Linked DNA regions of Homo sapiens: region 1 is linked to region 2. Evidence: fine-mapped expression QTL. A gene starts in region 2. The other region holds a variant in brackets. All regions are shown on one strand. Distances are between the middles of the regions.

Region 1 (5,000 bases), 240 kb before region 2:
GAGGCAGAACCTGTAAAACATTGTAGACCATTGGGTTTATTAGTAATTCTGAATGAGTTGGGAAGCCATTGGTAGGTTTTGAGCACAGGATGGACATGATTTGGCTTGTTTTTAAAAGGTTGCTCTAGTAGGAGGGGCAAGAAGAAGGGAAAACATTTAGGAGACTATTACAGTAATGCAGGTCAGAGATGATTTGATTGTGTTAAAAATAGCATCAACGTTTTGTTTTTTGTTTTTCCTTTCTTAAAACTACGTTTGTAGTGCTTCTATGGAAGAAAACACTGGCATTGGTCTTCAGATACAGGGCTTTGGTATATTAGATTGGGAGAATACTTGGTTCTCAGGTACGTTGGGAGGGCCCTTCCTTCTTTCTAGAAACTTGACAGCTAATTTAGGGGAGTTTTAAAGGTAGCTCAAGAGCCTTTGTCAGTCTTGGAATGTCTGTTCAGACAGTCAGAACAAGTCCTCAAAATACAGTGACCACCATATCACTATATAGTTCCCATTAAACAATTCCCAAGTCGACCCCTGGGAACGTATTACTTTCAATTCCTGGCCATCAGGCAGTTTCTGTTTTTCTTAAAGAGATAGACTTGGCATTTCCTTTTGGCCCTGTACTCTTACTTCTTTGATTAAATCAGTCATTGGGTTTTCCTTTTGTATCTTTACAGGGCATTTGTATCAGGGTGATATAGCTAGTAACAATAATATAGCAAAATCTATGTATGAAAGTCATTTTCAAAATTAGTCATTTTTTTGAATGAAATTTGCCATGTGTTCATTACCTTATTGTACTGTACTGTGGCACTAAAAACTTTAATGGAACATCTGTACTTGTAAATCTTTGGTTTCAACAGTGCCAAACAAAAATTCTGATTGGATTATTAAAGATGACCGGAAAGGGTGATTCCTTCTAATCTTTCCACCGGACTTACTTTCTTACATATGTGTTTTTTAGACTGTTTTATTTGACAATTCACTGCACAGAACCTAAATTTTTTATAAGTAAAAAAGTCTATAACTAATGTTATATACTTTAGATGAGGTAGCATGTTTTAACTTCTATTAAATTCCCTTGCAATTTTAATATTTTCCTAGCTTTTCCCTTTTTTACTAATGTGTAGCATAACAAAGCACTTGTTATTATATTCTAACTGATCCTATTTCACAATGAATGTCTGGGAAAATACATTCATAGATTTATTTCATGAGTGTCTAAAATGTGAAAAATACAATAAAAAATCTTGGTGTTGGTTTTTTAGGTGTATATTAGTTTACAATTGATTGCAGCCTTTGAGTCTTATCTAAAGGAATATCCTTACTCTACAAATAGAATTGAATAAAGACACTATTAAAAATAGACACATTCATAGCTTTGATTATCTGATATAGCTATCTCTAGTCAGAATTCTTTCATCAAATCATTTATTGGATCCCCCTACAGCAGATGGCAATCCTGCAAAATATGTTATGTTTCCCTTATTTATGACAGTGCTGAGATTTGATATTTTTGGAGTACATTTTACTTTCTAGAATAAAAATTTGATTTCAGTGCTACTAAAGGCAGAGTGCACATGTGCACCAGCGGGTGGGGGGAGAAAAAGAGAGAAATGTGTATGTGATTTTCCCTGTGCCCTTGCTCCCAACTGTATGTGTGTCTCTTTCCCACAGGGATGGGCTCTCATTTATGATACCCTAGCAGTATGGCCAGATTGAATTGCTTTTCTTACTGCTTTTGCTGCAGGGACATCCTAACCATTTCTCTCATTCTTGTATGCTGTCTCCCTGTTTCATCCTTTCATTCTTTCTTGGGTCATCAGACTCACCACTACTAACTGAAAATATTTTCCCATTTCCTGTCTTATTTCTCACTTTACCCTAGTCTTGGTTCAGGGTGGCGGAGTCTTTAGTGATAGGTCTGGTAGTGGCAAATGGGCAGAGAAGGAACTGGTGTTCATGTCAGCAGGTTTGTTCCTAATTCTTCCCTTTTACTTTCAGGCAGGTCTTGCCTAAGTCTCACCAATTCTTTAATGATGGTTTACTTACTCAAACTCTGCAGTGTTAACAATAATTTGTTTACAGGGCTCATATGTGGTGGGGGGCTGGGGGGAGGGTGGAGGGAAACACAATAGGTGCTTAGGGCATAGAAAAGCATCTCCTCCCACCAAAAAAAAAAAAAAAAAAAATTCCAGTTTCCAGTTTTTGCTAGTGGATCAAAACCTAGAGATGCCCATAGGACTCTGGTGGCTTGATGAAAGGGAAGAAGTAGGAGAGAGGCTGTGGGATAGTTTTTGATTGACACTAGAAAGAAAATACTGTTATTCAAATACTAAGATGGGAGTAGAGCATAAGAAGGTAGTCTAAATCTGTGTTCTTCCTAGAAAAGGGAGTAATGGCAGATGTTGGACTTGGGCAAGAAGTTTACCTGTTCCTCTAAGAGTCTTATACTCTGAAACCTTAAAAACTTGAATTTTACCTTTCTATTCCTTCTTTAAGGTATCAGCCTTTTAGGGAACTGCCTGTATATATAGTAATTTATGATTGCTCTTAGTTACTTTTCTTGTTAAATGTTTTCACAAAAGAAAGAGGCGGATTGCTTTTGTTAAGTTCACAAACTGTTGTTTTTAGATACGAGGTCTAGAATTTAATGTTCCTTACTGGAAAATACTAAGTTAAAACAGCATGCTTTTAAAAATGGAGCTCATAGAATCAGAATATATTACATTTGACTTAATTGATTCCATTCAGAAAACCAGGTACTAAGAGATTATCTATATAAAAGGTTAACAAGGAAAAAAATAATTTACGTCTTTCTGTTATTGATCACCCCTTTTAATCCTGTTGAATAGAAATGGAAAAAAT[T/C]TATTAGAAAGTCAAATAAGGCTCAAAAGTGTTTCTATCATTAATTATTGCTGAACTTTCTCTTACATCTGCCATTTTGGTTTATGAGTCAAGGAACTAACTTCTCTGAAATTGTTGAATTCGCATGCATATACTAGAAATGGGAATGATGAAAATAATATGGGAATGATAATTCAGAAATAACAGGAAAAATGTTACTTCTCATCACTGTATTGCAACTGTGGTGTATTTTCTTGTCAATAGGTATTTTTTTCAGATTTTGGTCAATTTGTATAATATCTGTGTTAAGTTTTATCTTCTGTGTGTAATTTCCTTTTTCTGCTTACCTTGGTCTTACGGCTGAAGCTTTGGAAAGTTTATTATTCCTGTCATATTTCTGTGTTTGTACAGCCATTGTCTTTAGCAGAAAGGAGTCATTGATTCTAAAAGATGACTCTTGCCTTTGTCAGTGCCAGCCACGACCTTTTACTCAGAGTCTGGATATGTTAACAATAAAACTACAGAGCTTGAGTTTAAAACCTAGCCAGATTCTTGTTATTCTATAGCATTCTTTGAGCCCCTTGTCATTTCCAGTATCAGTGGTATGTACTACTCTTTAGCTGGTGATGCCATCACCCAATTAATTACCATTTTATTTCATTAGTCTTTGCTTTTTCTTTATTTTATAGAAGTAGAGTCACTTGATGAAAATTGAATATGTAGTTTCACATAATTTTGTGTGTCTCTTGAATTTTGCTTGAGATGTTCTCTGTAACTGGCACCCATCTTTCCTCTCTCTCTGTTTTTACAAATGTATTTAAAATACATGCAAAGCTGGGCATAGTGGTTCACACCTGTGATCCCAGCACTTTAGGAGGCCATGGAGGGAGAATCGCTGGAGGCCAGGAGTTCAAGACCAACCTAGGCAACATAGTGTAAGACTCTGTCTCTACAAAATAAAAAAAAAAATTAATGATTAGCTGAGCATTGTGGCATGTTCCTATAGTCCTAGCACTGAGGAAGCTGAGGCAGGAGGATCACTTGAGCCCAGGATTTTGTGGTTGCAGTGAGCTATCATCATGCCACTGTACTGCAGCCTGGATGACAGAACATGAACGCTGCCTCTAAATGAGATAAAAATTAAAATACACATAAGCCTCATATTTATTAGTCATTTGATATAAGAAAATATGAAGTCATAAAAAGACTAAGTTATGGTTTGATTATTTTCATCAGGACAAGATTCATCGAAATCACTTACCATTATATGTTCAATAAAAGTGATTTTTTAAAATACAACTTTTCATAAAATTATATGCAGTTCCATATATTAGTGGATTTTGTAGGTTAATGGTCATCTTTTTCTTGGATTGAGTCTCAGAGGAATACTTGCTGCTATTCTACAGTGTTGGTTGCAGAGAAAATGCTTGGAAGATAGCTCACTGGTGTCTAATGATACTGGAGAGATGGTAACAGTGTTTTTTTTTTGTTTTTTTGAGATGGAGTCTTGCTCTGTCACCCAGGCTGGAGTGCAGTGGCACAATCTCGGCTCACTGCAACCTCCACCTTCTAGGTTCAAGCTATTCTCCTGCCTCAGCCTCCTGAGTAGCTGGGACTACAGGCGCCCGCCACCACACCTGGCTAATTTTTTGTATTTTTAGTAGAGACGGGGTTTCTCCGTATTAGCCAGGATGGTCTCGATCTCCTGACCTTGTGATCTGCCCGCCTCGGCCTCCCAAAGTGCTAGGATTACAGGCGTGAGCCACGGTGCCCGGCCGGTAACAGTGTTTTTTACATGACATTCCCCAAACTCATAGAATATCTCTTAAATTTGGAACTTTAATACTAGCTCCACAGGAATGAACAAAACACTGTTCACGTAATCTCTGTGTTTTCAAAGCCTCTGGTTCACTTGAAATTGTGCCTGGAATGTTGTCTATACTAGATACTCATCTTTTGTATCAACTTTTTAAAAAAAGTTATTAAAATATACTTTAGTCACTTGATACAGGAAGTACAGATTCATAAAAATAATAGAGTCCTAATAACTAAGTTAGTAATTAGTACATTCTACTTTGGAAACTGACCCCTCCCCCTTCCCTGCTTTTTGTTACCCATCCTTTCAATTTGGCAATTGTGTCACTATAAAAGAGCCTTAG
Region 2 (5,224 bases):
TTACATGACGGTTGTGAGAATTAACTGAAGAATTCAGAGATGCATGGCACATAGGAGGCACTTCCTAACCCACCTAAAGAAAGCAAACCCACAGGGCAGCAAATCAGAAATGGATGAGGGCTGACCTCCTCTTTATTCAGTAGCACATGTCTAATAGACCCGACTGTGTCTCGCACATGCTGCCCCTGAGGAAGACTTATTATAGGGAGCTACAAACAGTGTCACCTGGGAAAGACAGTGAACTCAGTTATAGAACAAGAACACCTGCCCGGGCTGACTGGGGGCCAGGATGCAGGGAAGGCTGCCTGGAGGAAGTGACATACCCCTGAGTCTCAATTGGCCAGGGAAACAACTGAGCAATGATTTGTGAAAATGAGTTCAGTAGAGGTTAATAAAAATTGGGAGTCCTGGCCAGTGGCTCACGCCTGTAATCCCAGCACTTCGGGAGCCCAAGGCAGGCGGATCACAAGGTCAGGAGTTCGAGACCAGCCTGATCAACATGATGAAACCCTGTCTCTACTAAAAATACAAAAATTAGCCAGGCATGGTGGTGCCTGCCTGTAATCCCAGCTACTCAGGAGGCTGAGGCAGGAGAATCGCTTGAACCCAGGAGGCGGAGGTTGCAGTGAGCTGAGATCATGCCGCTGCACTCCAGCCTGGGCAACAGAGCAAGACTCCGTCTAAAAAAAAAAAAAAAAAGGGAATCCCTGCTGTCTGCAGTAGGCCAATCAAGTGTCCAAGAATTGTGAGAATGTGCTTCCCCATCACCACCACCAGCCCACACCCACACCAAAATGTGTCACCCTTCAATCCCTTCAAGTCTGTCTGCTCAGCATCCTGATCCAAACAAGCCACTTTAAAAAGTGCAGTTATGAAACAATTCGAACACTGACTGGACTACTGTTTATATTTTTAGATGTGATACTGTGGTTATGTTTCTCTAAAAGTCCTTGTCTGTTAGAGATACACACTGAAGTGTTTACAGAGAGAATGATACAATCGCTGTCTGGAATCCGCTTCAATACCATCCATTGTTGGAGGGTGGGTAGTGGGGTTAGGGGGTTTTGAGGAAACAAGATTGGCCCGGTCTATCAGCATTGATGCTGGGTGAGATAGGTAAATGGGGGTTCATTATACACTTTACTTTTGAAAATGAAGTTTTTCGTAATAAAAAGTTGAAAGAAAGAAGGAAGGGAGATGGGAAGGCAGGGAAAGGAGAAAGGGAAGGAGAGAAGGAAAAGATTCTGCTCAAATGTCCCTTTGGAAACCTTCCTTGACCCCCGCGTTGGTGTGGGGCCGGGGGAATGGGGAGGCTGTTTTCTGCTCAGCCAGAGCAACAAGGCCCATGAGGAGACAGGAGGGATGTCTGGGGAGCAGTCCCAAGCCACAGAGTCCTTCTGGGGACCAGCCACACCATGAAGAGAGAGCAGAACAGGGAGCATAGCACAGACCTATGACATAGCACTGTGCCATGACATCAGCTGGCAAAGGCCCATGGGACCAGGAGGGAGGCATTAGAAGGGCGAACACTAGCAGCTGTTGAGTAGGAAGAAATGTGAGCCGACTTCTCTACCTAAGGAAGCGGTGGCAAGGCCGTGGAGGTTCGGGATGGGGACGGGTTCCAGGATTAGAGTGCTTTTTTTTTTCTTTCTTTCTTTTGAAGGAGGAGAGGCTATGGGAGCCTCAGGTACCGAGCATCTGGTGTCTGGAGAGATGCAGCTACTCAAGGCAGTTTCTGATCTGGAACCAGGAAGTCTCTGTTTCCCCACCAGCCAGCAAACGTTCTGGACTTGGTGCTGGGCCTGCCACCACCAAAGGTGGAGATGCCCCACATACCTGCGTCAGGCATGACAGGTCACCCCTGAGTCCTTGGGTCTCCCCAAGGCTTCTCCAGGGCTTCCCAACAGGGCTGAGATTCAAGAAAACGCTCAAGGTCCACCCCACTGCTCCGACCCTCTCACCAGAAGAAAAGGGCTGTGTCCCAAGGGCAGCCTGCTTGGGAAAAGAATATGTGGGGTGACTTGTCCAGATCTGCCCAGGGAGGCTGGGAATGGAGAGAGAAAGGAATCTGCCCACCAGTTGGGGGAAAAGTGGATTTCGCAACAACCTTGATGATATTAAATGCTTGGGGGGCCTGGGAAGACCAAATGTTTAATATTTGGAGAAGAGGCTGTCTAAACAGAGTAATTAGGAGGCTCCTTTGTAGTGATATGAAAGAGATGAATTGGGTATATTTGACATCAAAGACAGGAGATCCAGTGGGGAATGAGACCCACGGCCGGGCGTGGGCAGCGCTGGAGGACAGGCTCTCCCAGTGTGCTGCGGGGGAGGGCAGCCCCTGCAGTGTGCGTGTTGAGTGCTGGGAAACCCCCAAGTAACACTTCCCCCCTCATTTAACACACTTCCTAAAACCTCTCCTCCCCAAAAGCCACTTTGCAAAAGCAGCGATTACCACCAACCACGAGAAACACAGGAGCCTGCCTTCCACTGTTTACCACTGGGCAGGAAGTCGTTTATGGACCAGTCTCTTGCCCAGGCTAAACTCAGAAGTGGACACTGAGGGCCGGTTGTGGGTGCCACCAGGCAAGCTAGGGCATCGGAGTTCAGCAGAGCTGGGTGGGAATTCTGCTTCTCCCTCCACTACCTGGGTAACCCTGGGCAAGTCACTTAGCCTCTCCGAGCATAAACTGGTTTGCTTGTAATATGCAAATAATAAGGGGTGGGGGAAATTTTTTTTTTTTTTTTTGAGACAGAGTCTCGCTCTGTCACCCAGGCTGGAGTGCAGTGGCGTGATCTCGGCTCATTGCAACCTCCGCCTCCTGGGTTCAAGCAATTCTCCTGCCTCAGCCTCCTGAGTAGCTGGGATTACAGGCGCCCGCCACCACTCCCAGCTAATTTTTGTATTTTTAGTAGGGACGAGGTTTCACCATGTTGGTCAGGCTGGTCTCAAACTCCTGACCTCGTGATCTGCCCTCCTTGGCCTTCCAAAGTGCTGGGATTACAGGCGTGATGGAGATGATACTCCCTAAATCACAAGGGTGTGGTGTGAAGATGAAATGGCTGCACGTGACAGAGGAGTTGGAGAACAGGAAGCAAGTGGATTACTTGGATGAACTGTGATGGGCCCAAGAAGAACTAAGCCAATCACTCCAGGGGGCGTTTTCCCAGGATCCAGGCAGAGAGCTGATTCCAGCATCCACGTTGTATCCCCCTCCCGCTGTGGCCGGGGTCTCCAAGAGCCGGGCACCCACTGCAGAGCTTCCAAGCCCAGGCCCATTTGAACACAGGAGGACTTTTGAGGTTCATTTAACCCCAAAATCAGTGATTCTACATCTCAAGCTCATATTTTGAAGTGTTTACGGGTAAGTCATATGATACTGGTCATTTATTTTTTAAATATTCTAGCCAAAAGTACATGGTAGACAAAGTGAGAATGTCAGAATGTTGATAATTAGTGAAACTAGACGAAGATACATGAAAGTTTAATTTTGATTCTCACCTACTTTCATGTGCATTAGGAAACTTTCATAATAAGTTAAAGTAACAAAATAGGCCAGACTCGGCTGCTCATGCCTGCAATCCCAGCACTTTGGGCGGCTAAGGCAGGCGGATTACTTGAGGTCACGAGTTTGAAACCAGCCTGGCCAACGTGGTGAAACCCCATCTCCCCTAGAAAATAAAACAAAAAAAAAAATTGTAGCTGGGCATGGTGGCAGGCCCCTGTAATCCCACCTACTCAGGAGGGTGAGGGAGGAGAATCGCTTGAGCCTCAGAGGCAGAGGTTGCAGTGAGCCAAGATTGCGCCATTGCACTCCAGCCTGGGTGAGAGAGCGAGACTCCATCTCTGAATAAATAAAGTAACAAAATACATTTCAGTCTCGAGCTCCAGTTCCCTGCCAGGAAGAGCTGAAGCTGAGCTCTGGCACCCCCTGCTTCTTCTCCCTCATCCCTAAAACATGTGGGGTACTGGGTGCCAAAGGAGATCTGAAGATGGCCACCACTCAGACCAGCAGTAGAGGCCAAGAAGGTGGTGAGAAATTTTAAGGTATTGTAGCATATGCTCTCCAGGGTGAGGACACAGGATGCTGGGACCTAAGGAGGGAGAAGTTAACCCAGAGAGGGCCCAAGTCAGGGAGGACCTGACTGTGGTGACAGAGCCAGTCATGCTAATAATAGGAGCAGTGGTTTTGCAATCACAAATATTGGTCTGGGGGACTGCGGGCCCAATGTGGTGGGAGTTTTAGAGCAGGGACCCCTCCACTGTACGTGGATTCTTATACTTGCTAAGTTGCACTGAATTCTCAATCAACCCATTTGGAGGCTCTCACCAAGACAGGAGTCCCTTTGAATTGGTAGGATGTTAAAAGCTTCCTCCAGCCATTGACCCTGGGTCCCATTGGTAGAAATCAGATAATAAATCAGATTTTCCAGGTAATCCTCAGTTTAATGTCCATTCCCTCATTCAATCAATTATTCAATTACAAATCATTTTTAATATGATTTTATGGTTCAGGAATTCAGGCAGGGCTCAGATGGGCAGTTCTTCTGCCCCACATGGCATTGGCTGATAACAGGCTACCCCAAGGAAATCACAGTGTAATGGGAGATGGGAAATAGGTTAACACAAAGTTACTATACTACAAGAAAAATCTTCAAATCTTCAATCTTCATTCTTCATGGGTGTGAGTCTTCTCTGGTGGAGAAGAGAGTTCTTTGCTAAATTATATTCCTGTGTTAGCCAGCCAAGCACACACGGAGTACAGCTGTCCCTTGCTATTCATGGCAGATTGATCCCAGACACTGCCACCCCCAGCCCTGTGAACACCAAAACCCATGGATGCTCAAGTCCTTGATATAAAATGGTATGGTATTTGCACATAACCTACACACATCTTCCCATATACTTTAAATCATCACTAGATTACTTATAATACCTAATGCAATGTAAATGCTATGTAAGTAGTTGCTACGCTGTATTGCTTAGGGAATAATGACAAGAAAAAAAGGCTGTACAACTTCAGTACAAATGCTATCATTCATTTTTTTATCTGAATATTATGATCCATGAATACAGAGGGCTGGCTGTAAAAAGAATGTACAGTTTGGTACTTTACTCCTAGTTTAAGTCATCTCTTTCGGCCCATACAGGTTGCCTGGGGCAGGGCGGTGGTGAGTGTGTTGAGTCGGCCCTATACCCTGTTCCACAATGCCTGGTGTCCTTGGC

Alleles and levels. Positions count from the first base shown, and alleles are read on the strand shown. Sizes are in standard deviations (SD) of each study's normalised expression.
With allele T in place of C in region 1, the expression in spleen of the gene that starts at base 2,803 in region 2 is higher (moderate effect, 0.63 SD a copy in GTEx).

The links. PIP is the estimated chance that this variant, and not a neighbour inherited with it, causes the effect.
Region 1: its variant is the best candidate, but not a certain one, in a credible set for the expression of LINC00926 in spleen (GTEx, PIP 0.79).

What each region holds. Positions count from the first base shown.
Region 1 is chr15:57,057,638-57,062,637 of GRCh38, forward strand. All of the region lies in intron 3 of TCF12 (transcription factor 12), which reads left to right. Among named protein-coding and RNA genes, the nearest start is that of TCF12, 140 kb to the left of the region's middle. The variant T/C (reference allele first, on the strand shown) is at 2,863.
Region 2 is chr15:57,297,563-57,302,786 of GRCh38, forward strand. It overlaps LINC00926 (long intergenic non-protein coding RNA 926), which reads left to right and starts at 2,803. Exons shown (of 3, transcript NR_024433.1): 1 at 2,803-3,362. RefSeq lists enhancers at 813-862, 1,345-1,464.